3 linked regions of the Homo sapiens genome follow. The protein of the gene in region 1 interacts with the protein of each later gene in a pairwise test. Each region holds a gene or a part of one and is shown on either strand. Other genes may lie near its edges.

Region 1 (10,076 bases):
GTGTTTATATTTGGCATCTTCCGTAGAATATCCATTAGTTATGATGTCAGAAGATACGGATGTGAAGTTTGCTTTTTGTGATCACATTGGAAGTGGATTTTGTTCATGGAAAATACTGGTTCACAAGCTCCTAGTACTAGAAAACTGGCCTGTGATTCATTTTCTCAGTAGAGCGTCCCTTATGAAATTGACAATGAGATTTCTAAGGAGAAAGACTAGTTGAACTTTATGTATACATTATCATCAAATTGTATTAAATGTACACCTGCCTGAGGGGTTAGCTCTAGACTTTGAGTTAGACTGGTGTCTATACTAAATCAGTTCAATAAATGCGCTGATATTATGTATTATTCATTTGGAGAGAAGTAGATAAAGCAGGGCAGAGTTTATATTTTAACATATTATGTAGCCTACATTTGCTCTGATGTGTATTATTATTATTATTATTATTATTATTATTATTATTTTTGAGACGAAGTTTCGCTCTTGATGCCCAGGCTGGAGTGCAACAGCGCGATCTCGGCTCACCACAACCTCCGCCTCCCGGGTTCAAGCGATTCTCCTGCCTCAGCTTTTTGTGTAGCTGGGACTACAGGCATGCGCCGCCACGCCTGGCTAATTTTGTATTTTTAGTACAGACTGGGTTTCTCCATGTTGGTCAGGCTGGTGGAACTGCTGACCTCAGGTGATCTGCCCGCCTCAGCCTCCCAAAGTGCTGGGATTACAGGCGTTAGCCACAGCGCCCGGCCTCTGATGTGTACTAGTAAGTCATATGGGGAGAAGTAGATGAAATAGGGTAGAGCTTATATGTGAACATATTATATAACCTACATTGTCCTCTAGAAAGCTGGAAACAAGTTAGTAAGTCTCAGTACTATTGGGGCATATGGTGAATATACAAACCAACCTAAAAAAGTGTGACTGTAAATAGATGAAGTTTGTTTGTTTCTTTTAAAGAGACAAGGTCTCGCTCTGGCGCCCAGGCTGGAGTGCAGTGGCTCAGTCCTAGCTCACTGCAGCCACGAAGTTCTGGTCTCAAGAGATCCTCCCACCTCAGCCTCCTGAGTAGCTGGGACCACAGGCACATGCCACCAAACCTGGCTAATTTTTTGTTTTATTTTTGTAGAGTCAAGGGTCTCACCATGTTGCTCAGGCTAGTCTCCAACTCCTGGCCTCAGGCAGTCCTTGCGCCTCAGCCTCTCGAAGTGCTGGGATTACAGGCCTGAGCCAACGGTGCTTGTCCCATTTTTTTTTTTTTTCACCTGAGTTATTTGATGGGAATTTCTATATATTACAGTTGCGATGTTCTGAGAATTTTTGTTTCTTTGATAATTGTTTCATGATTTAGATGTTTTCTTTTTACGCTGGTAGTTATGATTTTTTTTTCCTTTGAATGAAAGAATTTTATTAGGCATGTGAAACAGGAGTTTTCATGTGATCAGCTCTCCAGTTCTAAATTTGTGACTTTTAAAAAACTTGAATTTTTTTCTTTGCCTTAACCCAAACTTGAATTTGCTCAGCCATTGTATATTTATTTGAACTCTCAGATGATACAGCATTGAAGCAGAAAGTCCTTTTATCCATGCTTTTGGAGTAATCAAAAGAAGGAATTCTGTTGTGCCAAGTAAAAATATGTGTGGGAGATAGCTAGGCTTCAAGAGATTGACTTTGAAGAGAGTAGTGGCTAAGTAGCAAAAATTTCCTATATTGAAGGTGTAGAAGTGGGCCTGCATTCCAACCTACCATTGTCTTCAAGTGGGGTATGGATCATTATGACTGGTTAGAGGGGGTTTGGAGAATGAAGTTGTTGCTGTAAGCCTATGGGATTCCCAGGCACAGAGCTTGCTTATGTCTTAATTTTAATGAGTTCTATATTTTTATAACTCTTGACTTATATAAATGGGTCAGCCGTTGAGTCTGAGGATGACCAGCAGCCCAAGGCTATTCCAGGTGCTGGTATTTCTTTTTTTTTTTTTTTCTCTTTCTGTTTTTTTTTTTTTTTTTTTTTTTTTTAATTATACTTTAAGTTTTAGGGTACATGTGCACATTGTGCAGGTTAGTTACATATGTATACATGTGCCATGCTGGGAATTGAACAATGAGATCACATGGACACAGGAAGGGGAATATCACACTCTGGGGACTGTGGTGGGGAGGGGGGAGGGGGGAGGGATAGCATTGGGAGATATACCTAATGCTAGATGATGAGTTAGTGGGTGCAGCGCACCAGGTGCTGGTATTTCAAAGATGGCTCAGGGGTTTCTTGTGGAGATGATCTGATGAGCATTTTGCCATTACAAACAGTGGAGGCGGAGAAAGTACGGACTTGAGCCTGAGTTATGGTAAAACATACTCATTTTTAAAGGAGAGTTTTAATGCTGATATTATAGAGAAAGACATTGTTTGACTCCTAGACTTTCAGAACGGGAAATAATTTTGACTTTATAGTCAGTATTTGAATTGGGTATAAGTATGTGAACATCAGTGGACCCTAATAAGGAAGAGTTAATGAATTAAGAAGAGCTTGCATCTCTGAACATCTTCTTTTTATACTTCGTTTACTTCCCATATTGCTCTTATTCAACAGATGGGATGGCATAATTGGGTATACGAAGTTTATGCGCATGCTAACTCTTTTTTGTTATCTTTTGGTGTTTTTTGGTGTACTTTTTGGGGATTTTCCTGGGAAAGTTCTAGGCATATATTCAGTTGATTTAGAGTTAGATTTGGGCTAAGATTATTAGTATACTTGAAATTCTGAGCCTTCTTATTTTCTAAATAGCTTTTAAAGTAGAAAACATTTGCCAGTGCTGTTGGGCTTAAAAAAAAAAAAAACCCAACAACAACACAATTCTTTATAAATACTCATGAAAAATCTGGTTACAGGCTGTGTTGTGATAGACATAGTACAGCCAAAAATATATTTAAGAAAATTCTCACCCAGTTTAGTAAGCTTAAATAAGAGGAAAATAAGACAGTTTTTTTTTTTAATAAAAGGCTGATTTTCCCAGAATATGAAGCCTAACAACTGTTTGCTGTGTTATTTTCCCTGTTGCCTGTTCTAAATTCAGCAAGAACTATGCATCCCTAGTCCATGGTAAAAGCTTAGTTCCAGTAGGTGATTCTTAGTAATGGAAGTCTCATTGAGGGATGCAAGGGAATTTGATTGGGAAACATCAGGCATGGAACATTTACTTTTTACTGCTCTAATTTTCTGTGTATCTGGGTATTCAGTGGGGTGGGAACATGAGCACAAATACTAGAATTATCTGGATTTTTTTTTTATACTATGGATTTCCTCCTCTTACCCCCTACCTGCCCCCCAACCCATTGCTAAGTGAGCCATTGATAGTAGGAGTGTGTTATATCCTTCAGGTATGTAGGGCTGAACAAATGCTAAAAACCTTGGCACTTGGCTGATATTCCATAAACCAAATTCCTGCTCTGTGTAATTTGCCTTCTGGTGATATCAGTTTGTTACTCCCATTTTTGAAGAAAAATATGAATTGTGGTGAAGAGACATCTGTAACCAAGAGTAAGATTTATCAAATTATGTAGTATACATGAAGGACACCAGGAGATTGTTTACCTGAACATTTATTAAACTCATTTGACTGTGACCCACAATAAAAAATACATTTTACTACTTGATTCCGCAAGCGCACACACACACAAAGTTGAAAGTTTGGTGAAATAATATTTATCTTTTCAGGGCCCTACTGAGTTAGCTATAATGGCTTGCAAGACCAGTTGTGCATATTTCTTCCTATCTAGCTCTTTGTCCAGTGACATCATGTTGGTAGCTCAAAATTGGTCATGGTGGGAATATTTACACCAGGAAATTCAGCAAATGGTATTCTTAGGGCTTCCCTCCTCATAGGTAGTTGTTAAACATTTATAGCACCCCACTGCTTATAACACACATTGATATATTCTGTTATTTCATTTCATTTTAAAAATGCTGGGTTTTGACTTCCAAATTAATTTTACACCCAGCTAATGGATTATAGCCTACATTTAACAACAAATACAACTAGTTTAGCCTACCCTCTTAACTTTGTAAGTGAAGGAACATACTAAGAGCCTCAAGGCCAAGGTCAGATAGTGAGTTATTAGCAAAGCCAGGGCTCTGGACTCAATCTGGAGTTGTTTCTGGTGGGCTTCTTTCCTAACCTCACTTAGTGTGTATAAGGGATTGTGTTAATCAGTTTGAATAAAGATGGACCTTGACCCTGAGGACTTTATGCTTAGGTGGGGGATTAAATATGGAAACAACAGTGATAATGAAAGGCAGAAAGTAATGGGTGGTAAAAAGATAAAGATAAGGAACTATAAGAGTTTAGAGAGGAGGGAGAGATTACTTTTATTTTTGTTTGTTTGTTTGTTTTTCGTTTTTGACCCAGGCTGGAGTACAGTGGTACAATCTCGGCTCACTGCAACCTCTGCCTCCCAGGTTCAAGTGATTCTCCTGCGTCAGCCTCCCTGAGTAGCTGGGATTACAGGCGCCAACTGCCACACCAGGCTAATTTTTGTATTTTTAGTACAGACGGGGTTTCGCCATGTTGGCCCGGCTGGTTTTGAACTTCTGACCTCAGGTGATCCATCCGCCTCAGCCTCCCAAAGTGCTGGGATTACAGGCGTGAGCCACCGTGCCCGGTCTACTTTTAGTTTTAAGGATAAAAGAAGAGGTGACATTTGAACTACTTTTTTTTTTTTTTTTAATTTGGAGACAGCATCTCACTCCCGTTACTCAAACTGAGTGCTGTGGTGCCATCACAGCTCACTGCATCCTTGATTTCCTGGCCTCTAACAGTTCTTCTGCCTCAGCCCCCAAGTGGCTGGGACTATATAGGCACACACCAACATGCTTGGCTAATTTTTCATTACTTGTAGAGACGGGGTCTCATTATGTTGCCCAGGCTGTTCTTGAACTTCTGGACTGAAACTGTCCTCCTGCCTCGGCCTCCCAAAGTGCTGGGATTACAGTTGTGAGCCACCACGCCCGGCCCCTGAACTATGCTTTGAAGAATGGGTAGGATTTGGACATGTGGAAATAGGACAACTAGTATGAGAGAAAGGCCTTTCTGGGCCAGGGGCCAGGGTGATCAAAGGCATACAAGCATAGACAGGGAAAAATGAGTAGTGAAAGAGCTAGGCAAGAAAGAGTCCGTTAGCACCAGATGGTTAAGAGCCTAGAATGCCAGTTTTCCTTTCTGCTTTTCAGTTTATCTTTCATTTTTGACTCTGGAGTAATCTAGTACTTCTTAACATTGAACAGGATTTATATGTTATGATTAAAATATGATCCAGAGAGCACATAAGTATCCTTAGAGTAGAAGCTGAAGGGAAAAATTATTAGTGTTAGAGAAGCAACCTTGAGTTTACCAATCCTAAAAGTGTTGGAAAGTGAAAAATATTTTATTTGTAAGGAGAGACAGTGTTTTTTTTTTGTTTGTTTTTTGTTTTTCTTCATTAGCGTCAAATTGGCTGTAGTAGAACAGGAAGCAGTTTTGAAAGTCTTTACAAGGGCCTTCTAAAATGTGATTTCTAAATGACTGGATCTTAATTTTTGGAGGCAGGTTTAGTTCAGGCAGAAGGGTAGTTTATACAGATCTGCAGCTAAGCTGAGTAGCTTTTAGAATTTAGGGCAGCAAAGCAGGGTATTTTATACAAAATCCACTTGTAAGGAATTGATGGCTTCTTTATTCCAAGAATTTTCTTAGATTTCAGCATTTATGTCTTTGACAGCCTGTATGACTGAAGATGTTTTGAAGTCTTGGATGGAACTTGCCTTGTTTCACAGGGGAATTGGGTAGCTAGAAATGAAGGTATAAATGCCAGTAAGTTGTGTCTGTTAATCAAGTTGAAGTACTGGTGGCAGTTCTCAAGCTTTTCTGTCTGCTGATGATTTCACACTTACTGCTTCTAATTAAATAGTGTGTAGTCGATTTGAAGAAGCCTTGCTTCTCTTTGACCCACCAGTTCTGTAAAGGTAAAAGCCTTCTTAGAGTGTTGCCCAGGTAACAACACATACAGAGACTGCTTAATAGCTCATCATGGAAGTGTGTGGAAAATTTTGGAAATGTTGGTAAAGAAGTTGCTATAGTAAATAACTACTTGGTTGGTAAAAAGCTGGGCTACTTCTGGATAGTTGATAAAGAGTTTTTGAGATGAGCCGTGGTTCTAAAATAAATATGAATTGTGTCATTGCCACACGATTTTCTTCAGTTATGTAAGCTCCTAATATGTAAATGTTGTCCTACCATTTTAGAAGGTGTCAGCAGTTTCATGTGACCTGTTCCACAATATAGCACACCCCAAACACCACGATAAGAGTTCAAATATGGCATGGCCCAGATGCCTCACACCAGTTAAATGATAAAGCTAATCATGTCAGCACAGTGTTTCTGTTAAAGTTTTTTCCCCCTCTTTTTTGAGGCATGTTAGTTTTCACGAATTGAGGTTATTAGAATCTTTCCAGATTTTCTGCCACCATTTTTTTTGTGTGTGTGGTAAAAAGTATAATGATGGTGCCCTTAATTAAATTATGTAAACATTTGTAAAGATATACACGCATACACATAGTGTGCATATATGTATGTGTAGACATACATACATATATATTTACATATCATTAGTTCTTGGAATTTGTGGTGAAAATACACCCACCTGGCAAATGGTTGAAAACAAGTGTTCTAGCTCTTTGAAGACTACCATGTGAGTATTCACAAATATGAAAGTAATGCAAACCCAAAGGGAGTTTTTGTATGCCCAATTTCAAGAAAGGAGCACATTTTAAAAGGCAAGTATGGAATTCATTCATATACCAGTGAGGAATTTCTCAACTTCTCCTTTACCCCACACATACACCCGTTTACCATTCTCATTATTAGCAGTAAGCAAAATTAGAAGACTTTAAGAATCAGACTTCTACTACAAGTGATGCAAATAAATATTATTTTTAGAAAAAATACAAACCTGTGGTTTTGAGTTATGAAGGTTTAAGAGACACATATCACTAGTTTTTTTTATAAACTACATGGAGTGTTTTCTGTGCTTCAAGATGTCGTAATTGTCATTGTGAGGCCTTTTGCTGAGAGCATTGTATAAAGGAATAGTTGTTAGAATGGTTATTAGGTGTTTCTTTGAATAGTTTATTTTTCTGTAGTCAATTTATCTTGCATACATTGATGGCCGGGGGTGGTGGCCCACACCTGTAATCCCAGCACTTTAGGAGGCCAAGGCAGGCAGATCACTTGAGGCTAGGAGTTTGAGCCTAGCCTGGCCAAGATGGTGAAACCCCACCTCTGCTAAAAATACAAAAATTAGCCGAATGTGGTGGTGTGTGCCTGTAGTCCCAGCTACTTGGGAGGCTGAGGCACAAGAATCCCTTGAACCTGGGAGATGGAGGTTGCAGTGAGCCAAGATCGTGCCACTGCACTCCAGCCTGAGCTACAGAGTGAGACTCGGTCTCAAAAAAAAAAAAAAAAAAAAAAAAAATTGAATAGAGTATACTACTTTAGTGAAAAATTGACCATTGAAAAATCAACCATTGAAGGGAGGTTATATATATATTGGCAGACAGTAGGGTTTCTGAAGTTGTTTTAGAATAATTTTGTTATTGAGCAGCTGTTTTATCACCAGACCTCATTCATTTATTATTGCTTTTTTCCATTTTTTTTTAAATCTCATGAACTGTATTCTTTCATTTTAAATCTCTCATATTTGCCCTGAAGTCAGTGGTCATATTTGGACTAATGTTTTGATTTGCTGTTGTCTGCGCAAAGATCTATTACCAAGTTGCATGATCAAGTTGGTATTGAATGGTAATTCAGTTAATGTCTTCTTCTCTCCATTCCTTTTTTCCTTCTGTATTCTAGAAGTTACCTTAACACTAGTGTGAGATTCCTGGCAAAGTTAATGGGGAAATGAAATTAAATATTACTGTTATTCAAATCCTAGGGTGACCTTTTTGCCAACACTAATGAACATAGAAAATTTTTCAGCATGAATTATGCAGCTTAAATTTTCACTGAGGCTAGGCCTCTTAAGTTTAAAAAATTAAAAGTTAAAAAAATATTTATGGGGTACAAGTGCAGATTTCTTACATGTATAGATTCTTACATGTATAGATGTGGTGAAGTCTGGGCTTTTAGTATACCCATCACCTGAATATCCACCATTCTGTATGTCCATGTGTACCCATTGTTTAGCTGTCACATATAAGTGAGAACATGCGGCATTTGACTTTCTGTTTCTGAGTTATTTTACATATGATAATGTAGGCCTCTTAAGTTAAAAAACATTCTGACATGCATTTTATAGTTCTTGTCAACATTATCAATAGCTTTGATAGATGAAACAGGTTTCTCCTGTTGCAGTTGGTATCACACACAATAAATTAGCCATCCCTACCATTTGAAAATATAAAGGTGTTTTTTTTTTTTGACACGGAGTCTTGCTCTGTCGCCCAGGCTGGAGTGCAGTGGCATGATCTTGGCTCACTGCAGCCTCTGACCTCTGCCTCCCAGGTTCAAGCAATTCTCCTGCCTCAGCCTCCTGAGTAGCTGGGACCACAGGCACGTGCCATCATGTCTGGTTAATTGTTGTATTTTTAGTAGTATTTTCACTATGTTGGCCAGGCTGGTCTCAAACTCCTGAACTCGTGATCTGCCAGCCTTGGCCTCCCAAAGTGCTGGGATTACAGGCGTGAGTGACTGTGCCTGGCCCAGATAAAGTTTTTTTAAAAGATAATCTAGTAATAGTAGGAAAGAGAAACCAGTTTATCAGTTAATCTAATACTTCCTATTTTGAATATAAATTTCATTGTGTTGCATGGTAACTTCATTATGTTCCACTGAGTATTTACTTTTCTAAAGACAGACCTTTAACAATTTTTCCTTTTTTTCATGTTTTGGAGACAGGGTATCTCTCTGTTGCCCAGGCTGGAGTGCAGTGGCACGGTCATAGCTCATTGCAGCCTCAAACTTCTGGTCTCAAAGCGATTCTCCAACCTTCGTCTCAGGAGTAGCTGGTGGGACTATAGGACTGTACCCACCACACTCTGCTAATTTTTTAAATGGGAGTCTCCCTATGTTGCCCAGGCAGGTCTCAGACTCCTGGGTTTAAGCAATCCTCCTGCCTCAGCCCTTCCAAGCATTGGAATTACAGATGTGAGCCACTAAACCCTGCACAATTTTTCAACTTTTGGGAATTTCACTTAGAGGAGGATAATAGTAGCTTTTAGACATTTTTATCAGTTATCCAAGGGTGGAAAAAAATACTTAAAATGCAAGTAACTACAAACATTTTTGGTTTTGTGGGAGACAGTGTAGATAGAACATAGAACCTTAATTCTTGATCTAGTGCTGCTGTGAAATTCAGAGAGAATAAGTAATTTAGACACAACTTCTTTCTCCTCTTTGCACATTAACCATGAGCTAATATTGAGTGTTTACATGGGGTAGTTATTACATAAGAAAATGTACATTATCTCGCTAATCTTCACAGTAACCATATGAGGTAGGAACGATTATAATATCATCTCCAGTTTGCAGGTGAGGAAGCAGGATTAGAGAACTTCAGTAACTTACCTAAGATCACATAGCCAGGCGCCGTGGCTCATGCCTGTAATCCCAGCACTTTGGAAGTCCGAGGCGGGCAGATCACGAGGTCAGGAGATTGAGACCATCCTGGCCACATGGTGAAACCCCATCTCTACTAAAAATACAAAAATTAACCAGGCGTGGTGGCATGTGCCTGTAATCCCAGCTGCTCGGGAGGCTGAGGTAGGAGAATCGCTTGAACCAGGGAGGCTGAGGTTGCAGTGAGCCGAGATTGCGCCACTGCACTCCAGCCTGGACAGAGTGAGACGCTGTTTCAAAAAAAAAAAAAAAAAAAAAAATCACGTAGCTTGTGAGAGGCAGTTATCTCTTGCTTCTAAATCTGTCTCACAGTGACTCTCTACTACTACTCTGTATTGACAATCTTTAAATGGGATGGTACTTGTTTTGCACATTTCATAGGATAGTTATGAGAATCAAAAAAGATAAGATGTACAAAAGAACACACAGATG
Region 2 (10,076 bases), on another chromosome or scaffold:
CTTCCCTCTGCCCCGGCACCTGGAGAATGCTGCAGGCCTGCCTGGGCTCGGGCCCTCACCTCTACTCTCCTGTGAGACCCTTCCGTGCTCCCCTACATGGCTAGCCCCGCCCCCCTCCTCTCCACTTGCCTGCTGGCATTCACCAAGCTCCTTCCTGGTGCCTGAGTTCGTTCCTCAATCCTCCATGCCCTGCCTGGACTGAGCCTTCAGATCCTGTGGATGTCAGTTCCTAACTCTGTCGAGATAGTGCCCCCTTCTCTCAGGACTTCCACAGCCCCAGCAAAGCCCTGGAGATGGAGGATAACAAATCTTGCCCAAGGGAGAGTACAGGCCAGTCAAGAGCAAAGGAGGCTGGGAGAGAACGCAGGGCTGCAGGACTGAGGGATCCAGAGAGCTGAGAAGAGCAAAGGGCCAGTGGGGGTAGCTGAGGTGGAGCCGGGAAAGACTGGCTGGGGGCTGGGCTCACCCGTGTGACCACAGGCCATATCTCATTAGAGGGCCCTGGACAAAACAGGGACACTGTCCTGGCTCAGCCTCTCATTGTCTTACATTGAGGCCTTTGCCAGCCTCCCTACGGGCTCATCTCTAGGCCACCACCACCAGCTCCTCCCCCAGAGTCTTCAGAAATGAAAGAAAATATGAATGAATTAATGAAAGAATGAAGCCCAAACTTCTGTGTCATACTGGATCACTTGAAAAAAATTCAGACCATGACCGGGCATGGTGGCTCACACCTGTAATCCCAGCACTTTGGGAGGCCAGGGCGGGTGGATCACCTGAGGTCAGGAGTTCGAGACCAGCCTGACCAACATGGAGAAACCCCATCTCTACTAAAAATACAAAATTAGCCAGGCACAGTGGTGCATGCCTGTAATCCAAGCTACTTGGGAGGCTGAGGCAGGAGAATTGCTTGAACCTGGGAGGCAGAGGTTACAGTGAGCCAAGATCATGCCATTACACTCTAGCCTGGGCAATAAGAGCGAAACTCCACCTCAAAAAAAAAGAAAAAAATCAGACCATAGATGTCTTGTTTGTGACTTGTCTACTTTGCAGTTTACTGAGAAAAGTTCAATTTTGATCAGTTGACCTCAAAAAGCGATGGATTGGGGAACAATTTTCCGACTCAGCCCTGCATAGTGACTACCTGCCTTGTTCTAAGCCAGGGCAGGTAGATCTCAGTAGGTGCTCTTTCCCCTCTTCTAGACTGTGCCCATGGCAGACATCATTAATCGATTGTTGTACTCTTTTCCATGGAGCCAGGGCTTTGCTTCTAATTTCTTCTCACTACTGTGCTCCAGAGAGCTGGAGCTAACTGCTGAGACCCACCTATTGCTCCAGTGTTAGGTATCTCCAACTCCTACTTTGGGACCTGCAGTGTGGAAGGTGAAGCAATGACCCAGTCACACCCATCACCCAACCAAGTGGCAGAGCCACTGCTGGAGGCCCCGCCTGGAGCCCCAGTGCCATTCACAGAGCCTTCTCTACAAGTGGACTGCTACATCTTCAGAGCGAGTCATGTCTTGGGCCGTATGTTCCATTTTAATGTCTCAGTCAGAAGGGAGTGAGCTGCAACTCCATCCATCCAGGCAGCAGAACAACTAATGCCACACACCCCCATCCACTAGGAATGAGAGAAGTCCACTGGGGGCACCCTAGGAAGAGATCATAAGGAGCTGGGGGTAGGGACATCTGGCTCACAACAGGCACTTCCTGAAGCCCATGCAGCTGGCACAGGCCCTTAGGGTCTCCCACCCATGGTCCCGTAGCCTGTTGGCTCAAGACACTGTGATTGTGTAGCCTGACACCATTTCCCTTTCTTTCTCACCCACCTCACAGCTGGGACACAGCTGGGCAGGAGAAGTTCAAGTGCATCGCATCTGCCTACTACCGGGGTGCCCAGGGTGAGCAACATGCCACGTCGGGGCTCAACTGCATGCAGCAGCGGGGTCCCTGCCGGGCTCCACAGTGGGAATCCCGAGTTCTCTGCACAGGCACCAGTTTTTTGTCCTCCAAGACCCACTGAGAAAACACCAGGCCACTGCTTGGGAACAGGGAAGCTGCCTTCATCCCCAGGCACTGGCTGACTTTGGCGATCACACCCTTTAAGGACCCTGTGGTAGTGGGTGCTGGCTTTAAGTCTCAGCCCCAGTTTCAGCTCATAAAGATGCTCAGAGATGAAAGTGCTTTTCCAGAGGCTCAGAGAAGGGCAGCACTGGACTCCAGGGGGAGGTCGGAGGAGGCTTGTCCTGTCTTAGCAGAGGGGGCTGGGCCAGGGAGTAGGAGTGAAAGGGGGACCACGGGAGGACTGGGAGGCCCCAGGTGGGGGCCAGCAGGGCCGGATGCTCACCACTTCCATGGCCAAGGGCAGCCAGGTGGTGCTGGGCAGGGCTCACCGTCAGCAGGGGGCGGCAGCATAAGCTCCGGATGCCTACCCCACCTTCCCAGGAAGAAGACAGAAATGGATTTCAGTGGGAGATGTGAGAGAACCTCAAAAGTATCCAAAACCAGACTCAAATTATAAGGCACCGATATGTCTACTCGGTAGTGGTGAAAAAGTTACAACATTTTCTTTTAGACTTAAAAGAAGCAAAAATAGGAAACAAACCAGGCAGCCCTCAGCCGTGGGTTGGAGCTCCAGCTCTGCCCTGGTCGCATGGCCTCCTGCACCCTTCGCCTCTTCGGGCCTCTCCTTGAAAGGATGCTTCTCCCCTGGGAATAAGAGGTGCGAGGCGCCTGGCCCACCTCTCCACATGGCAGCCTGGCTGCCGTCATCCCTTTCCTCAGTTTCCCCCTTCCTTTCTCTTCCCATCTGCCTTGGGAGGGGCGTGGGTCTCCCTGTAGCCTTCAGCCAAGGTGCAGAGGAAGCCCCTGTCCGGCCCTGGTCACACCCCTGGGGGCAGTAGAGAGCATTTGCCTGGAATGTTCTCCACATAGGGCTCCCCTCAGGACCCCAACAGGACCGGGGTGCGGCCAGTGATGAGAGGAGCTGAGGGCCCAGGCTGCATCTCCCGGTTTTCTGCCCACCTGGCTCCCCGGAAGTTGTTTCGCTAAAGCAGGTTGTTGCTAACCATCACTGCTGTAGCTGCTGTTGGTTGAAATGAAAGTTGGCCCTGGACTAACAGGTTTTTTTTTTTTTTGAGCCTGAGTCTCGCTTTGTAGCCCAAACTGGAGTGCAGTGGCGCAATCTCGGCTCACTGCAAGCTCCGCCTCCCGCATTCACAACATTCTCCTCCCTCAGCCTCCCGAGTAGCTGGGACTGCAGGTGCCGGCTACCACACCCAGCTAATTTTTTTGTGTGTGTGTATTTTTAGTAGAGACGGGGTTTCACTGTGTTAGCCAGGATGGTCTTGATCTCCTGACTTAGTGATCCACCCGCCTCAGCCTCCCAAAGTGCTGGAATTACAGGCATGAGCCACAGCGCCTGGCGACTAACAGCTTTTTAAAACAGCTGCTCTTGTTTAATCCTCACAGCAACCCTGAGAGCTACAGGTCTCGTCCTCGCCATTTTACAGGTGGGAAAACTGAGGCTCTCAGCAGTTAAGGCCCTCACCTGAGCTCCCTTAGCCGTAAGTGGCAGAGGGTGTCTGACGCTAAAGCCCATGCGCTCGCTCCACGCCTACCTTGTCCTGCCTCCCTGGATCCCACACTGAGGCTGGGCTGCCGGGTGCAGGCTGGAGGGTCCCGGTGGGGGACAGCCATGGGGTGTTTCCTCCTCAGCCTTCATTGTAGGAGGTTCCGGTGCTGAGTGCCTGGTTGGGGGGCTGCCCTGGCAGTTCCTTGGGAGCTGGGCACCTCCTGGGGAGCCCCCTTGCTCGCCTCGCCTGGCACTGATTGGCTGTTGGCTTTTTCCGGGTGTCTAGTGATCATCACGGCCTTTGACCTCACTGACGTGCAGACCCTGGAGCATACCAGGTAAGTCTGGGCTCTCTGGCCCCTGCAGTCTCCCTGGGCTCAGGAAGCTGCCTGGAAGGGCTCCCAGACCCTGGCCAGTGGACCCTGACCCCGTGGTGGGTGTGAGTGACCAGGGCCCCTTGTCAGAACCAGCTGCCCACGGACTACTTACTGTCCAACTGCCTTTATCGCTTGAGATTTGTCCCTATTCTGGAGGAGCCAGCACATGAGTGTGAGCCCAGCACAGCCACCCCCAGGCACGTGCTCAGAGGGGCCCCAACCTGCTTTAATACACTGCCTTTGCCATGTTGCAAGTCCGGATACTTTTTGAATGAGGTGCCCCACGTGTTCAGTTCACTGTGGGCCCTGAAAACTGTATAGCCAGTCTTTGAAGTGACATGAATTTGGCACTTGCAGTCTTGAGAAGAGAGAATTGGCAATGTGACCCATTCAAGAGGCTATCCTACTTCTGCTGGGAATCGGCCAGCTACTAGAGCAAAGCCCTCTCACCTTACCTTGGTCTGGGGCATTCACACCCAGCAACTTCCAAACCCCGTGAGGGAGGCGGGGGTGATGGTTCTAGTTGATAAACATGCAGGGCTCATGCAAGGTCTCACCGGGAGAGGCCAGAGGTGGGGCCAGGAGGGGTCTTCACCACCTCCAGCCAGTGCTCTGGTATTCCCACCCCTTTGGGTCCAGCCAACGCCCTTCCGGCTGGAGGTGCAGCATCCTGCTCAGCCAGTGTGGGCCAGGAAGCCCTCCTTGTCCCTCCCAGCCCAGCACTTCAGCCCTGGGGAGGTCCCAAGTGTGCCCTCTGCCCCCTGTTTGGGGTGGGAGGATGGGTGAATCTCTCAGCCTCTCTCCTTACACTCCAGGCAGTGGTTGGAGGATGCTCTGAGGGAGAACGAGGCAGGCTCCTGCTTCATCTTCCTCGTGGGAACCAAGAAGGACCTTCTGGTGAGCAGAGTGGCACTGGTGGTCTGGGTGGCCCTTGGGAAAATGCCTCCCCTTACAGCCCTCATTGGAGGAGCCATGGGGAGGGAGGGAGGCAGCACAGTGGGAAGCAGGCAGCTGCCTATCCCCCTGGGCCTCCCTGCAGGAGAGCCGGGACGCTGGGTCAACAAGGGCCATTTCTCCCAGTCAGGGGCCGCATGTGAGCAGGCCGAAGCAGACGCTGTGCACCTGGCCAGGGAGATGCAGGCCGAGTACTGGTCAGTGTCGGCCAAGACTGGTGAGTGGGCCAGGGCTGTCACCATGGTGGGGCAGAGCCCTGCTCTTGGGCCAGTCCTGTGGGGCCTGCCATGCAGTGTTTCCCTCTGTAGCCAGTCGTCTGTTCCCTCTGTGGCCCTGGTGCACACTGGCATCACAGCCCTGCTGTGCTGGTGCCTGGCAGCACTTTCATTGCCTAAGAGGAGCTGCGTCATCTCTAGAAGGAAGCTGGGAGGCCTGCCTCACGGATGGGGGAATAGTGACCCCAACCCTGTGTCATGCCGTGCTGGCCTGTTCTCCATAACCGGAGAACCCCATAACTACTCATAACTACCCCATAACTACTCATGAGGCACGTTCCATTTTAGTCCTGTGAAGTAACTTCCAGGGCCACAGGGTGGCAGGGCCAGGATCCAAACACACCCTCACCTGTAACCACTGCACTATCCTGCCTCTGGCCCTGAAATGCCAGGCATGTGACATCACCTGGCATAGAGAAGGGCCCAGTGACAGGGGCTCCCATCCCTTCCCAGTATCACTGTGGCTCAAAGACCCCAGCTCTCACTGAACTCACTCCCCACCGGGTCTACCCCTGGCCATACTGGGTCCCCAGCCCAAGGCAAGATGCCCAGCATCTTTGAGCCTCCATCTCATCTGGGAAGCAGGTGATGCCATCCATCTCCCTTTTTTGTGAAAAAACGTTTTAAATTACAAAAGCCAGGTGTATTTACTGAGGAAAACAGAAAATCCAAAGACACAAAGAGCAGATGGCAAACACAGGTTGTTGGGGGATGAAATGAAGTCATACGCAGGGCCTGGCACATAATAGGCCCCCAAGGCTCTGGGGACTCAGGAATTGGGCCCAGTAGTCTTTACCCTGTGTAAGAGGGGACAGCAGATATCTAGTCGGAGACTGGGTGAGCACTGAGGGTTGGCGTCACAAGTAGAAGCACCACTTTCAGCCCAGCGCAAACAACTGGCAGTGCCTTCCACTGCTCCTTTCCAACAGTGAGAACTGCTCTGTGAGAACCCTTCCTCCCTTATCAGAGTAACAGTGAGTTCACCGACAGCTCACTATGGACCAAGCAGGACTGCCCTATGCGGTTGTGCAGGTTGCTGGCTGCACAAGGGCAGTGTGCGTGTTAAGGGCTGGAAACCAGCCCGCTCTCTGATGGGCAGCCACCTCTACCTGGAGGAGGATGCATAAAGGCTCCATGTGGGGGCTGACAGCAAATCAATCCTCACAGCCCCACCGGACAGGTATGGAAAGTGACAGGAGGGCAGGCACATATCTGTCCTGAGTTCCACATCTTCCAACACTTGGGCCATAGTAGCATCTGATTGGAAGAGTAGATGCTGGGAAGCAAAGGCTCAGAAGTTTGAGGGAGTGGCCCAAGCAGGCAGTGGGGTGGGAGTTGGGAGGCTGGAGCCAGGTGGGAGGCCAGGCCAGTGGACCCTGCCCCTGGCACTGTGCTGCCTGTGTGAGTGGGTGGGGCTGTGCCCTCCTGGGGTCATTGTTACTGTCAGGGTGCTCTAGAAAGGGCTACGTGCCAACCTGAGGGTAGGCTAGCCTGGCTTTCACACCCAGATGCATTAAGGGGCAAGGAGAAACACTGATGAGGTCCCGGCTGTCTTGTGGGCCCACAGGCGAGAACGTGAAGGCATTCTTCAGCCGCGTAGCCGCCCTGGCATTCGAGCAGTCGGTGCTGCAGGACCTGGAGAGGCAGAGCAGTGCCCGGCTCCAGGTCGGCAATGGAGACCTAATCCGTGAGTATAGGTGTGACTGGGTTGGGCTGGGGAGTAGGCTGGAGGCCTAAAATCCACATGCGCCATCCTCGTCACCTGAGGCCTTGCCATTTCCTGAACTTGTGGCCCTCTCCTGTCCTTTGACCCTCCTCTCAGGGTGTCACTGCAGCCTCAGGCCTGTAGCCCCTCTGATTCCACCTGCCAGGTCAGACACCCTCCCTAGCCCTCCCTGTTCTCCTGACACATGGACCTCATGGGCATCCATGAGGTCCTCATAGCCCAGGCTGGGCGTCCCAGGCTCTGCAGATGTGTCCTGGCCCCGGCTCTCCCAGTCTGCACCTTTGCCCTCTCTGTTCCAGTGCCTGGAAGGCCCTCTCTTGGCTTGTGTCAGGCCATTCAGGCCTTGAACAGCAGGCCCAGAAGCTTCAGCTCACAGCTCTGACTGTCAGGGCCGGCATCCCCTGCCCAGTGTCAGCTACAGGATTCCTGGTTGATGCTAAATTACTTCTCCCCTCCTTACAGAAATGGAAGGGAGTCCGCCCGAGACCCAGGAGAGCAAGAGGCCCTCCAGCCTGGGCTGCTGCTAACTGGGGCCTGCGTGGAAGGCCTCCGCTCCCTGCACACACACGGACAGGAATTTCCGTGACTGTGGTGTGGAGACTGGAGCCCAAGCTCTGCAGCGTGTCGCCCTCAAGCTGTAGGCCCATGTTCCAGTCCCTCCACCCACCCACCGGGCTCAGCTCCAGGGCACAGTCACTTGTCCGTTGCAGGTTGGGCACTAGAAAAGGCCCCCACTGGCTGCCTGGGAGCCCCACACCACCGGGCCAGTGCAGGCACTGTGGTGATCCCATAAAAGGCCAGTCCATTTGCAGGGTCATCAGACAGTCACCTTTGGCCTCAAGAGGCCTCAGAACTGCAAACTCCTGCGTCGGTCTATACTACTCGGCCATGGCCCACATCAGCAGTCAACCCTGCACTCTTTCCCAGCGATCTTGGATGTGTCCCCAGGATCCGTCACAGTGTTCCAGGCAACCTGGACTTGTCAAAGTCAGCACCTGAAGGAGAGGCCACCTGCCATTCCCCCTGGGAGTTTTCTGTTGTCAGCAGGACTTATGGTTCTGGGTCTCAGAGCTTCAGGCCTCACTGTCCTTCTGCCACGGATGCTCAAGGTTCCTGGGCAGACCAGCACCTCTGGAGGACAATGGACAAAATGTCTCTTAGACCTGTTCTGGCTGAAGGGCTATCTCTGGCACCTCTGAGATCCCTAGGTCCTGCCCTCCTGGTCCGTGGGCCAGGATGTGCAGAACAACCACTCAGGCCTTTCTGGCCCACCTGGACAGTGCATTTACCTGTGTGCTGCGGGAGGCAGACTGCACAGCTGTCCTAGGGTAACTCACTCTGCAGCCCTTGAACATGGCACTGCCCTCCTCTGGCACTCATGCTGGGCCTGTGCCCACTGCTGCCTCTCCATCCCTCTCTCATTGGCCTATACATCTCTTAGGACCTTTGTAATGGTGTCCATGCACCTTTAGAGGACTTCAGAGGCCCTGCCAAGTCTAGCATGTTCCTGTCTCCAACACCGCCTCCTGCACATGCAGAGCAGACAGAAATACCCCACACATTCCCCAGCCTCTCTGCCCAGTATGCTCATCCACAGGGTTTTCTCACTGCTATGAACCAGCCCCACAGCCCCAGGCCCCTGTCACCTGGCTATGCCCACTCATCCCACCCGTCTCGTGCTGTTGCTTCCCGTAGATGGCGAGCACCTTGCAGGCAGCCTTCTGATCAGTACTGCTCTCCTAGGGCCTGGCACACTGCAGCTGCCCTGTAAATGTTCAGCTCAGCGATTGCCAAATACCAGTTAGGGAAGAACACTGGCATCTTTTTCTATTCATTCCCCCTTCAACATATTTTTTGTAGTTTTTTATATAAATGACTTTTTTTTTTTTTTGAGATGGAGTTTCACCCTTGTTGCCCAGGCTGGAGTGCAATGGCGTAATCTCGGCTCAGTGCAACCTCTGCCTCCCAGGTTGAAGCGATTCTCCTGCCTCAGCCTCCCAAGTAGCTGGGATTACAGGCATGCACCACCATGCCTGGCTAATTTTGTATTTTTAGTAGAGATGGGGTTTCTCCATGTTGGTCAGGCTGCTCTCGGACTCCTGATCTCAGGTGACCTGCCCACCTCGGCCTCCCGAAGTGCTGGGATTACAAGGGTGAGCCACCATGCCCGGCCATAAATGATTTTATTCATTTTTATGTTTTCTTTTGGGCGGCGGGATGGAGTCTCTGTCACCCAGGCTGGCGTGCAATGGCACGATCTTGGCTCACTGCAAGCTTCCCCTTCCGGGTTCATGCCATTCTCCTGCCTCAGCCTCCCGAGTAGCTGGGACTACAGGCACGTGTGACCATGCCGGGCTAATTTTTTATATTTTTAGTAGAGAGAGGTTTCACCGTGTTAGCCAGGATGGTCTCGATGATCTGACCTCGTGATCTGCCCGCCTCGGCCTCCCAAAGTGCTGGGATTACAGGCCTGAGCCACCGCGTCCGGCCTCCATAAATGACTTTTAAAGGGGTTGTATGTTTAGTGTGAACAAAGACAGTACAAAGCATATAAAATACAAGGTGAAAGCCCCCCCCCCGCCACATTAGCTGCGCCCCTGAAGTGTCTCCAGCAGAAGAGATGGATGAATGGAAGGACACACAGATGGACAGAGAGCAGGAAAGACTGTTAGCTCTGCTAACAGTCAGGACTATTCCTTCTGGACTCTGTGCCTTTGCCTGCACAGCTAGTGTTGATGGCTTGTTTGTTGTTTTCACCAGAGTGAGCTCCTTCTGGACATACTGCCTGGCAGCCTGCCTTCCTAGGGAGCTGGCGCCAAGGCCTCTCCCTGATGGCACACAAGGAGCCTCCTTCCTGTAGCAGCGCCCAGTTTTCATGTGGATGGATTGTAGTTCATTTGACCCTCCCCATCCGCGGGCCATCCGGCTTGTGTCCAGCTTTTAGCTCTTGCCAATGGTGCTGCAGTGGCCATTCTTGTAGTTATAGCTTTGCGTACTCAGGAAGGCCCTTCTCCCGACTGCGGCCCCCAGCCTGGTCCACTAAATGCAGCCTGTGGTCGGGCAGACAGCATTGGGGTCCATTAGGAAGACCAGGTTTGCTGGGCATAAGCTTCACAGGACGGGAGAACCTGCCCATGGTGGACTGTCGTTCTCCACAGCTCCCTTCCCTT
Region 3 (10,076 bases), on another chromosome or scaffold:
TGGGTAGGGTAGGCGGCTCAGAGGGAGCCACAGTGGCGGCGGCGGCGGGCGGCTGTGGTGGACTTGGGAAAAGTTGCGAGGCGGCCGCTGGAAGTTGCGCGGGCGGGCGGGTGGACTGCGCCGAGCCGCGGCTGCGGTAGTGGGCGCTGTGCGCTCGGCCATGCTCTCCGGCGCGGCGCTGCGCGGCGGGAGGACTGCGGCGGGGAGTAGGGGACACCAAGGTGGGGGCTGTGATCGCGGGGTGGGGGCGGGGGCACGGGCAGAGCAGAGCTACCGGCTCCGCACAGCCACGCGCAGGTGGGGAGGAAAGAGGCCCAGCGAGCGCTCGGACGTGGGGAGAGAAGAGGCCCAGCGAGCGCTCGGAGAGCCGGGAGTGGAGGGCACACAGCCAGCGGCGGCAGCCTAGGAGCAGGAGGCAGAGAGGGCGCGCTGCGACCCGCGCACCTCGGGCTTGCTGGGCGCCGAGCAAACCCCAGGGGGCGGGCTGCCAGAGCGTTGGGCCGCGGAGAGGGCGCAGCGCAGCCTCCGGCGCTTCGTCTGGGTGCAGCCTGGGTCCAGGGTCAATAACCCTCCCCGGCGCCCCCTGCCTGCCCGGCGCGGAGCGGCCTTGGTCTGGCGGGATGTGGGCTAAGGGGTTTGGGGAGGGGGCGGTGGGAGTCCCATCCCCCACTCTTACAGCAAAAGTGTTGGATGACTCGCCTGGCTTTGCCGGCGGGGCCCACACTTTCCCACACGGTGTGATGCTCCGCCAGGACTGTAGACGACAGGACTGCGTTTGTCCAAATGCTTCTACTTCGAGTTGAAGGGGACTCAGGGACACTGAGCCCCGGAGCGGCTGGGAGCGCTCTTCCTTGAGGTGTCAATAGGCGGGGCTGGAGCTGCCTCGGGAGTGGACAGGCCGCGGTTCTCTCTCCCACACTCGCACTCGCCGAAAACAAAACTCTCTAATTGTGTTGTTTACGGAACGCAGAAATGAGAGATCGGAGATGGGTGGGATGCTTCTCCCCAGTGAAATCCCAGTCTCCCCCCGCGCGACCCTCGCACATTAGAACCAAATACGGTAGGTATCGTATCCACGCCTCCTTGCTCACTGCGTCCCTGCAGCAGCCCGGGAAGTCGGCGGCACCTCAGCAGGCTCGGCTTCGCGGGCATTGGAGTCGGCGGTGTAGCCCCGCGAGATGCTGTCATCCCAGGCGCCTTTCCAGTGCTTTGTGCAGTCCTCACCCAAGCACTCGTACACTCCCCGATACATTTCCTTTCCCCTGGGTCTGAGAAATCAACCTAAATATAGGGCTCTTTGGGTCATCAGTCCATCTGTTTCTCTTTTGGGTGTTGTTCTTTACACTCGCTGCTACAGTGTCAAAGGGCGCCGGTGGAACTGTTTTCCCTGTTTGCTTTTAAATGAGGCCGATGTCTTTATTTTCATCTGAAGGGAAATAAATGTACATATACTTGAGGTTTGCGGGCTTCGATTTGGACTAAAGGTTGGGAGAGAGAGAGAGTGTGTGTGTGGGGGGGGGAGTTGGCGGGAGTGGGATGGTGGGTGGGGGTGGGTAGCCCTTTTCAACCATGCCTAAGTTGTGAAGTGAAAGCTTAAGGCTTCGCGCCGCAACTCACTGCCCGATAACTTCTGAAGTGAAAGCAGAACACAAAACCCTTCGAATTTTCTTGAGCAACTTTTTCAACTATTTTAATTGCCAAGCAAGACATACGATGCCGTCTTAAAATATTCCCGCACGCACAGTCCACTCAGCATCCAGAAACTGAGCCTCGTTTCCGATCTGATGATACTTGTCATTCAACTGGTGGGAGACCCATTTATTTTGTCCCCAGGGTCTCTAAGGATGCCGCTGCCGCTTTCTGATAGCTAGATCTCAACTCTTACAAACTTTTACTGAGCCTCAGATTCCCGCTTGCACTACTCCAGCTGTTGCTGCCGCAGCTGCCTTTCCCAGACAGAAGCGCTGCGTTGCAATTCTTCAGTTACAATCTGGGTAATAAAGGAAATCATATTAAAACTACAGATTTTTGTATTTTAAAGCGCGATTTCCTTCCCCCGAGTAGCGCGTGGCGGAGATGGTTGGTGACCCCTGCGGTGCAATCATCCAACGAAAACTTCACTGCTCTGCACCAGTTTTTCTTTTTCTGGGTTTAGAAGGGGAGTTGTGACTACAATACTTTAAAAAACAAAACTACCTTTATTGTGGCAAGAGAAAACATTACAATGGAAACAAATTACATATAAATAGTTGTTTTCTCGGTAGCTTGTTGTTCTTTTTGTCTTTTGTAAATTTCTTTGGTGGTCTTAAGTCCTGATTTGGCCTTGACTACAGTACAGGAGCCCATGGACCTAGACCAGAGACCACGGACCCTGAAAATACCCACTGAATCTACACCGAGATTGAATGCACAACACAGTTTGCAACTTGTAAGGCTTGTATTTTATACAGTAGTTGAAACCGATAAATTCGTTGTAAATCATTTGGGAAGGTTAAAAAATTTAATTAAAAATAAAATGAAAGGCAGGAAGATTGACATTTGTAGTGCCTAACGCCCCTGAATTTTATTTCCATCTTTAAGAAAAGAAAACCAAAAGCCAAACCGACTCTGGCAGCGCGGGGAGACTTCCCAGCCGTTTTCTTGGGCAGCTAGGACAGCACCTGGGCCGTGCCAGAAATGCCAGTTGCTATGGTCCTGATGGATGGAAAGGAAGTGCAGGTTGGGTCTGCGCAGCATGTCTAAAGCCTGAAATACCGAAGCCACCCTTACCTTACTTCCCCAAAGTGACAACGCGCGGGAATTCAGTCACAGCAGAGAACGAGTTGCATCCAGTAACTCCCTTAGCTACCGGCCCCCCAGAAGTCTCGTAAAGTCTCAAAAGGCGATGCGATTAGCAAGACCGCGGCAAGGGGGGCACTTGTTACTCCTACACTTGCTCTCTGTTTAAAAAAAGGCTCTGAAGTAGGAAAGGTAGATGCCGACCCTTTCTCCCGTCCTTAAACTACTCACCTTGTCAGCCCAGTAACTGAGATAAACACAACAAAACAACCCCCCCACAACAACAAACACAACACCCAGATTCAGGCATTTACTCTCTGTATGCCCACCTACTTGGGTTTTCCTTCATCCTTAAGAAACTCAGATGAAAACAGAGCTTTGTTTTAAAAAATACTTTTATTTGTTTATTTCAGATTGCTTCTGAGGAGGAAAATCCTTCTCCCAACGGAGGCCGAGGCCCCTTCTAGGAAGGCGGTTTATTTGCTATTACTTGACCATTACCCGGGCTTAGGGCTTCTTTATTGCATTTGGCACTTGGAGCACAGTCTTCTTGCAGTATTTTGATGTGTTTTGCAAAAAAAAAAAAAAAAAAAAAAAAAAAAAAAAATCTGTGTTTAGGGGAAGGTTAATTACGCTTTTCATTCTTCCCTCATCTCCAGCACTGTGGAAGGGAACGGTTCATTAGCTGTAGAGGCAGAAAGGCTAAAAAGCAAGGCTTCTTTTTTTATTTGTAGGGACTGCAGAGTTGCAGGTCTTGGCTATAGAGTGCATGTGAGTGTGTGTGTGAATGTGAGTGAGTGTGACTTTTGCCGGCTAGCCCAGCTCCCAGGCTTTCTGAGCCAAGGCCTCCCCTGGGCCCTGGGGCCGGCTTCCTGCAGGGACAGACATTCAACATGTAGGACTAGAAATTAACATGTCATTCCACGAATTTTGGTTTCTTTCTTTCTTTCTCTTTCTTTTTTTTTTTTTTTTTTTGGAGTTGAAGGTGAGGAGTCGTAAGCAATTTCTCTTTAAGCATGTTACTGTTTGGGAGTTTATTTTATTTTTGTAAGTTGGGGCCAGGTTATCCGAGGCTGCAGTTGTGACCTGGGGCAGGAAGGGGGGACGCCCTCCTCCCCGGGCTAGAAGGACAAGAGAGCGGAGTTGCCCCCGGCACGCCCGGCTCGGCCCCCTCTCTCCCGGCACCCCCCTGCGCGTTGCCTCCGCTGGAAGCGGGCGGTGAGATGGAGAACCTTGACTTGTCATCTCCTGGTCACCGGCTTTTTCCCTGTTCCCAAGGCACCCAGAGCCCTGTTCCCAAGAGCTGAGCCCTCCCACGCTTCATCTCAAAACCGTCTGGTGCTGAGGAAGTGGCCCAAGATGGACGTGGGGGTGGGACTGGGGAAGCCCCAGTGAGGTGGGAGGCAGTTTCTCACTCAGGGGGCCCCCTACACCTCGCTCCTCAGGCTGCTCAGCTCAGGGCTCCAAGGTTTGGCCAGAACTCTTCTTTCCCTCTCTAGTCTCAGAGGGGCTGCGTGCCTGGCGCGCTGCTTCCCTCGGAGCTGGGTTTACATTGACAGTGTAAACTCACACCCACACATGCGTGTGCACACCCACACACGTCTTGGCTTCAGGAAGACAAGGAGCACTCTTGCGCGGAGGGCAGGCACACACTCACTCATTCACTCTCCCTGTTGGGACAGGCTCCTTCCTAGCCTCATAGGGCAAGGGAGAGTGAGTTTGGGGAAGAGATGGGGTGGGAGGGAAAAGTTACACTCTGATGATGCCAGGTACATTTTTTTGGAGTGACGGTTAACCCTTCTTCCGCTGGAAGCCGCTGTCTAGGCATTTTCTAAAACGGTCTGTGGGGTCTGCTTTTCTTTTCTCCTGGACGGCGCAGGATAAATCATTAGTTCCCTCCCGACTTCCCCACTCCACTAGCCACGGTCTTCTTTCTAAAATTAGATTTCCCCCTTCCCACTCTTCTGGCCTTCAGAGTTTACCAGGGAATTTTCAAGGAAATTGGCTGTATAGTGAGAACAAGTGTAAGGAAGAGGATAAAGAGGAGACAGACAAATCGATCAGAAAACCAGAGAGGGAGACAGGAAGGGAGAAATAGTGTAGTTCTTCCAGATCCTTAGTTTGCACACAGATTGGTATTATCCTCCCCAGCCCCTCCAGGAAATGAAAAAAGTATAATCCTTGTTAATTACCTTTGCTTACTACAAGCCATACAAGAAACTTCAGAGATGTCTCTACATAGGGAAGAAACTGTTTACAAGACTCTTTCAAAAGTGTGACATATTGCTCTAGTTCAGCACTAAAAAGCTAAACACACTTAGCCTCCTTTGAAGTGCCCTGGCTGGGGCAGCTTATTTGAGTGTGGTTCAGATATTGCTGTGGGTATAACTAATGGCTTCTACCTATTTAGCTCAAGTGGGAGGAGAGAAAGTCCTGAATTCCTTGTCCAATGGGTCCCTCTGGAGACTGGGTTCTGGCTTCTTGCCAATTCTGTACAATGTCAACATTGAATATTTGAATTCCCAGACTCTATTTAACAAGTTTCTAAATAAATAAACTCATTGTGTGTCTGTGTTTAAAATTATTTCACCTCTTTCATAAAAGCTACAGCATCTTATTACATTGGCCTTGCAAGTTGATTTTAAAAAAATAAACAAACAGATCTCAAGGCATTTTAATAGCCAGATCTCCACAATTTGTATGTATTGTGAAGCCATTCTCTCACGTGTGGCTGTGTAGGGGTTACCTAGAGGGATCGTGATAGCGAATTTTAATAAAAACCCCAACTAAGTTCAGAAAGTAAGTGAAATATTAACTGCGTCTAAAGGGAGCCTTGACTGTGTAACTTTAGTGTATTTAGATATTTGTTAATTTTGTCTACTGGGTCTACAGGGGACAGAGAGCCTCACTGATGTGTTCTAAATGGTTGTCTGAATACAGATCCCCCTTCCCTATTGGTATCAGTAGGTCTAGAACTCTGCCCAGATGGTTTTGTTTCTAGGCATTTTTTATCTGTGTATGTCCTTGTAAGTTGGAAGGAGTAAATATATAGATATTATCTTCATATTTCACTTTGGTGAAAAAACCACAAGTCCTATGGTTTTACTAATTATTCAGCATTTAAACATCCATACAGCATTTTTATCTATATAGAAACATAGTTGTTCTAAGAAGTACATACTGAATTTTTTTTAAGGCAAGTTCTAGTCCTTTTGAAAGTGTGGACCACATCTGGAGTTGTTAGGAAAGAAAGTGGAATTTACTCTAATTTATGTGTATAAAATACAATGTTATTAGAAAGAATGGGATTTGAAAGGGCACACGGTAAAGCCCATAACATTTAGTGGGTAATGTGGAGAACTCAAAGCCAAGACAAAAATACCATCAACCCATGCAAACCCTAAAATAGATTACAATGACCTCAGTCATTTTCATTTTCAAAAATAATAGCCATGATTAAAATGGGGGAGTGTTTTGCTTGGAACCATACTCTTCGGCATTATTATAAAAGCTGTTTTGTGGTTAAAGAACTGTTTCATTATGGAAAAAAAGGGAACTGAATTTTTAATCAAATTCCTGACTCTTCAAAAGCACTCATTCTTGAATTAATTCTTATTTTGATTTTAGTTATTATTCTTATTCATTAGCAAACGTGCTTTTGGCTTGTATATTCAGCCAAATTCTTGACTACTGACTTTTATAACAATTCTAAAGGAGAAATTTATTTAGAAAAGAGATTTTATTATGTTAGTAAACATGTGTGTAGGGGTCATTAACTACACAACATAAAGAACCAACATTTCCTAAACCTTGTTCAAGAACCTGCCTAAATGAATTAGTTGTATATGTCAAGGTTGTTCAAATGATGACATTTATGAATGAAAGTGCTTGTACATGGCAGTTTTTGTGCTTTGGCGATGGGCAGGCTTACACAACAAATATCAATGTGCTAGGCCCTGTGCACGGGCAAACCATGTTCCCTACTCTCACAAGCATTACAAACGTGCACATCAGTGTTTGAATCTGGGCATGATCCCTGATTGAAAAGTCAGGTCCTCTTCAAGTTATTGAATGCCTCTGAGGCCTAGCATCTTTACTTGTGAAGTGGGAGTAATAATACTACCCTCCTTGGGCTGCTGTGAGAGTTAATTGGTATAATGTGTGCAAAGTACCTAAGGCACATGCTCAATAAATCTTAGTGGGTTTCAGTTTCCTTATAATTTATCAGTTAAATTTTCTGAAGAAGAAACATCCTTTTTTTTCCCCTCCTGTTTAATGTTTTTATCCAGTTTCCTTTTTAAAAGTATTTACATGTCTACGGTAAGCATTTTGTATGTCTTCTCAATAAATTATGCCCTCAGAATGAAGGGAAGTCATATCTAAAATTTGGGCACATTAAAACTGTCCATACCAAGCCAAACTAGGCAGTAAATTTGTTCTGAAAACTTGAGCATCTTCCTTTGCCCTTTATTTGGAGTCGGGGTGAGGGGGATGTGTAAATAAAATGATTGAGATTTCAACTTTTCCCCACAGATTTTGGCATTGTATAGCCACACAGCCCTAATTTAGTTTTGCATACTCTCTAGTTATCATTAGGCAATAATCCCTCCTGAATGAAAATTTGACTTTTAGTGGATTGAGTTTGTAAGTCACTTTACTACTGCAGCTGGGTTGCTCCTCTTTAAATGAATGGATTAGACTAGAGCAGAGCCTGTAAATTTGCAGGTACCATAAATGAGTGAAGCAAGGTGGGTATAAGCCTTAAGCTCTCTCCTATTTTTATTTAATTTTTTGACACCCAGCCTTTGTATTTCAGAACAAGAGGGAGTGGCGGGGATGGTGGGAAACTGGCAGTTCAAGACTCCTCTAAAGGTGGCAGCTTCTTCTCAGCTCCTGCTCACTGTTACCATTTGGGCAAGGGGGTTCAGGGCCGCCAGGTCTTCCACTTTTTAAGAGAAGCCACAAATCTGGGTTTTTATGTAAGTTTTCTCTACTTTATGAAATGTTGATTCAATTTTAAAAAATTCTGCAGGCCCAACCAAACACCTCTGCCTGCAATATATAGTTTGTAGGGTTTGCAATGTCCAGATTCATTGATTTCCAAGGGTGCTTCAAAGTTTCATTTTATGGTGATATCCAGAATGGTTTTTGAATATTACCTTGTGTTTTTAAGATCTATATCTTCTTCCCCACCTCAAGTTAATATGTGTGTGTGTGTGTGTGTGTGTGTGTGTTTTGATAGGTGGAAGTACTTATTACAGAATCTGATATCTGGCCATTTATCTGGAAAAATAGTCTTTTACAACTATGTTGTGTCTTTCTTTCCCTCCATGCCGTTTCATCATTAATTGGCTTAAGAAAATAAACTGAAGCATTCCCTCCCCTTCTTGTATCCACTGGCCACCATTCTTTCTTATTTCTCACTAAACCCAATTCTTTGATTTGTGGGCTGGGGGTTGGGCAGTAAATCATTAGGAGACAGTCATCTGTGGTTTTCCACAGTGGGAGAAGGAGTCATTTGGCTACTGTGGATATTCAGAGGAAGAGTTCACCCCTGCCCTCCTAGGAGAGTCCAGATGTAATGTCCTGTACATCTGTAACTGAGGAACCCAACTGATTTTTAAGACCTGAACCTAGGATGGAGAAATAAGTTTTTAAGGGATGAACGTCTTATTTGAGCAGAGTGGCTTTCCATGTAGGAAGGTCATATATGTTCGGGTAACATGTGAAAATAAACATACTTTGCTCTGTTTATTATCATGAGTTGTATTTCTAGCAGAAGTGTTAGGTGAATAACAGGTAAAATTAAGTCTTTAGGATTAAAAATTGTGGTGATGGAATGTCAACACAATGGACTCTCCTGATAAAGATTTGACTGAGCACTTTATAATATCTAACTCAATACTGTAGTCATGGGACTTGTCAGTGAATACATATCACTATCAGTGAATATTGTTGGGAATATCATCGGATAATGCAATTCTTTTAGAGGAAGATTCTGAGTAGTGATGAACCATGCATATAAGCATTATCAATGAGTTATCACCTCATTCTCAATCTTTATACCTGATGCTGAATCTCAAATTCCTTAGCTTGGCTGTTGAGGGGCTCTACTTTTGTGCCAGAAGAATGTGGTGACTCCTGAGTACAGGTCGGGAGTGAGATTTGCCTGGGTTTGAATCCTGGCTCCACCATTTACTAGCTGGTTGAAATGAAGGCAAGCCATGTAACCTTTTTGTGCCTCAGTTTCCTTACTTGTGGACTAGAGGTACTTACCTCATGTGAGGATTTGATCAAACTAATGCATTTAGAGTGCCTTAAATAGAATAAGAGTTCAATACATTATTTTATTGACTTTTCAGGCTTGTCTTATTCAAGACTGGTCCATTCAGCCTACCTTGTTTACTCATTCTGTACCTCTCAGTCTCTTATCAGCCTACTCTTGTGTTTCTACCATCCAAATTTTGGCCATAATGTTGCCATAGTTTGTAAATCTACCCATACTGTACACTGACTGTCAAAATCTAACTCCTCTAAGATTTCATTTGAACTCCTGCTTCTTCATGATCTCTCCTGGAGATATGACTTCTATGTTATTTCATTCCAATAGTATGGAATTGTCTTTATCATCATTTTGGCATTTTATTATAAATTGCTTGTCTTCATGGTATATATCTTATTTTTCTAGGTAAACTGTAAAACTCCTGGAGAGCCCATTTCTGTTTTGTATAGGGCCTAATACTATGCTTTGCATATGGCAGATATCAATATGATTAGGTGATGGTGGTTAGCAATGGGCTTTGGTGGATTATGTGAACCCCTTCAATTTCTTTGGCTGTAAAACCTGTGCAGTTAAGTAATGTCGGCACCAGAATTCTGGGATATCTGACATTTCAAGTGCATACTAAATCCACAATTGACCTATTTTGACAGTGATAAACCACCTGGAAAGTGGAGTATTATTCCTAATTTTCACCAATAATGTCCCTCATTTTGCCAGTGCAGGTATTGCCCATGACCCCTCACTTAAATCACAAATTGTTATTGATCTTAAACTCTGTACTAGACCTGATTCTGGAGAATGTCAAAGGAGTCAAGGTAGAAATGGTAAAACATTCTGTGGACTCATGTAATTCCTAGGGATTTGGGAATATTCAGTTTACAAGTCATCAGAAGCCAAGTTTTTACCTAAATCCTAACACCAATGTAGGCAGTTTTGCTGCCTAATATTTATGCTCTATTAATATAGAGCATGGTGTCAAGCATTTTGCTGTATATTTAAATGCACTTTTATGATT

What was found.
Region 2: the proteins of RABGAP1L (region 1) and RAB36 interact in a two-hybrid assay, tested with the Homo sapiens proteins (one study listed by BioGRID).
Region 3: the proteins of RABGAP1L (region 1) and MECOM interact in binary tests that used the Homo sapiens proteins (3 or more experiments, as listed by UniProt).

The regions. Positions count from the first base shown.
Region 1 is NC_000001.11:174,160,791-174,170,866, forward strand, and holds part of RABGAP1L (rab GTPase-activating protein 1-like), read left to right. Parts: intron 1-10,076. UniProt on the Homo sapiens protein: GTP-hydrolysis activating protein (GAP) for small GTPase RAB22A, converting active RAB22A-GTP to the inactive form RAB22A-GDP. Plays a role in endocytosis and intracellular protein transport.
Region 2 is NC_000022.11:23,154,132-23,164,207, forward strand, and holds part of RAB36 (ras-related protein Rab-36), read left to right. Parts: intron 1-957; exon of another isoform or gene 958-1,515; coding exon of another isoform or gene 1,516-1,527; intron 1,528-1,836; coding exon 1,837-1,901; intron 1,902-3,471; coding exon of another isoform or gene 3,472-3,512; intron 3,513-3,860; coding exon 3,861-3,912; intron 3,913-4,766; coding exon 4,767-4,848; intron 4,849-5,031; coding exon 5,032-5,122; intron 5,123-6,747; coding exon 6,748-6,867; intron 6,868-7,368; coding exon 7,369-7,433; coding exon of another isoform or gene 7,434-7,492; 3' UTR 7,493-10,076. UniProt on the Homo sapiens protein: The small GTPases Rab are key regulators of intracellular membrane trafficking, from the formation of transport vesicles to their fusion with membranes.
Region 3 is NC_000003.12:169,652,750-169,662,825, reverse strand, and holds part of MECOM (histone-lysine N-methyltransferase MECOM), read left to right. Parts: intron 1-1,663; exon of another isoform or gene 1,664-1,990; intron 1,991-2,769; exon of another isoform or gene 2,770-3,721; intron 3,722-10,076.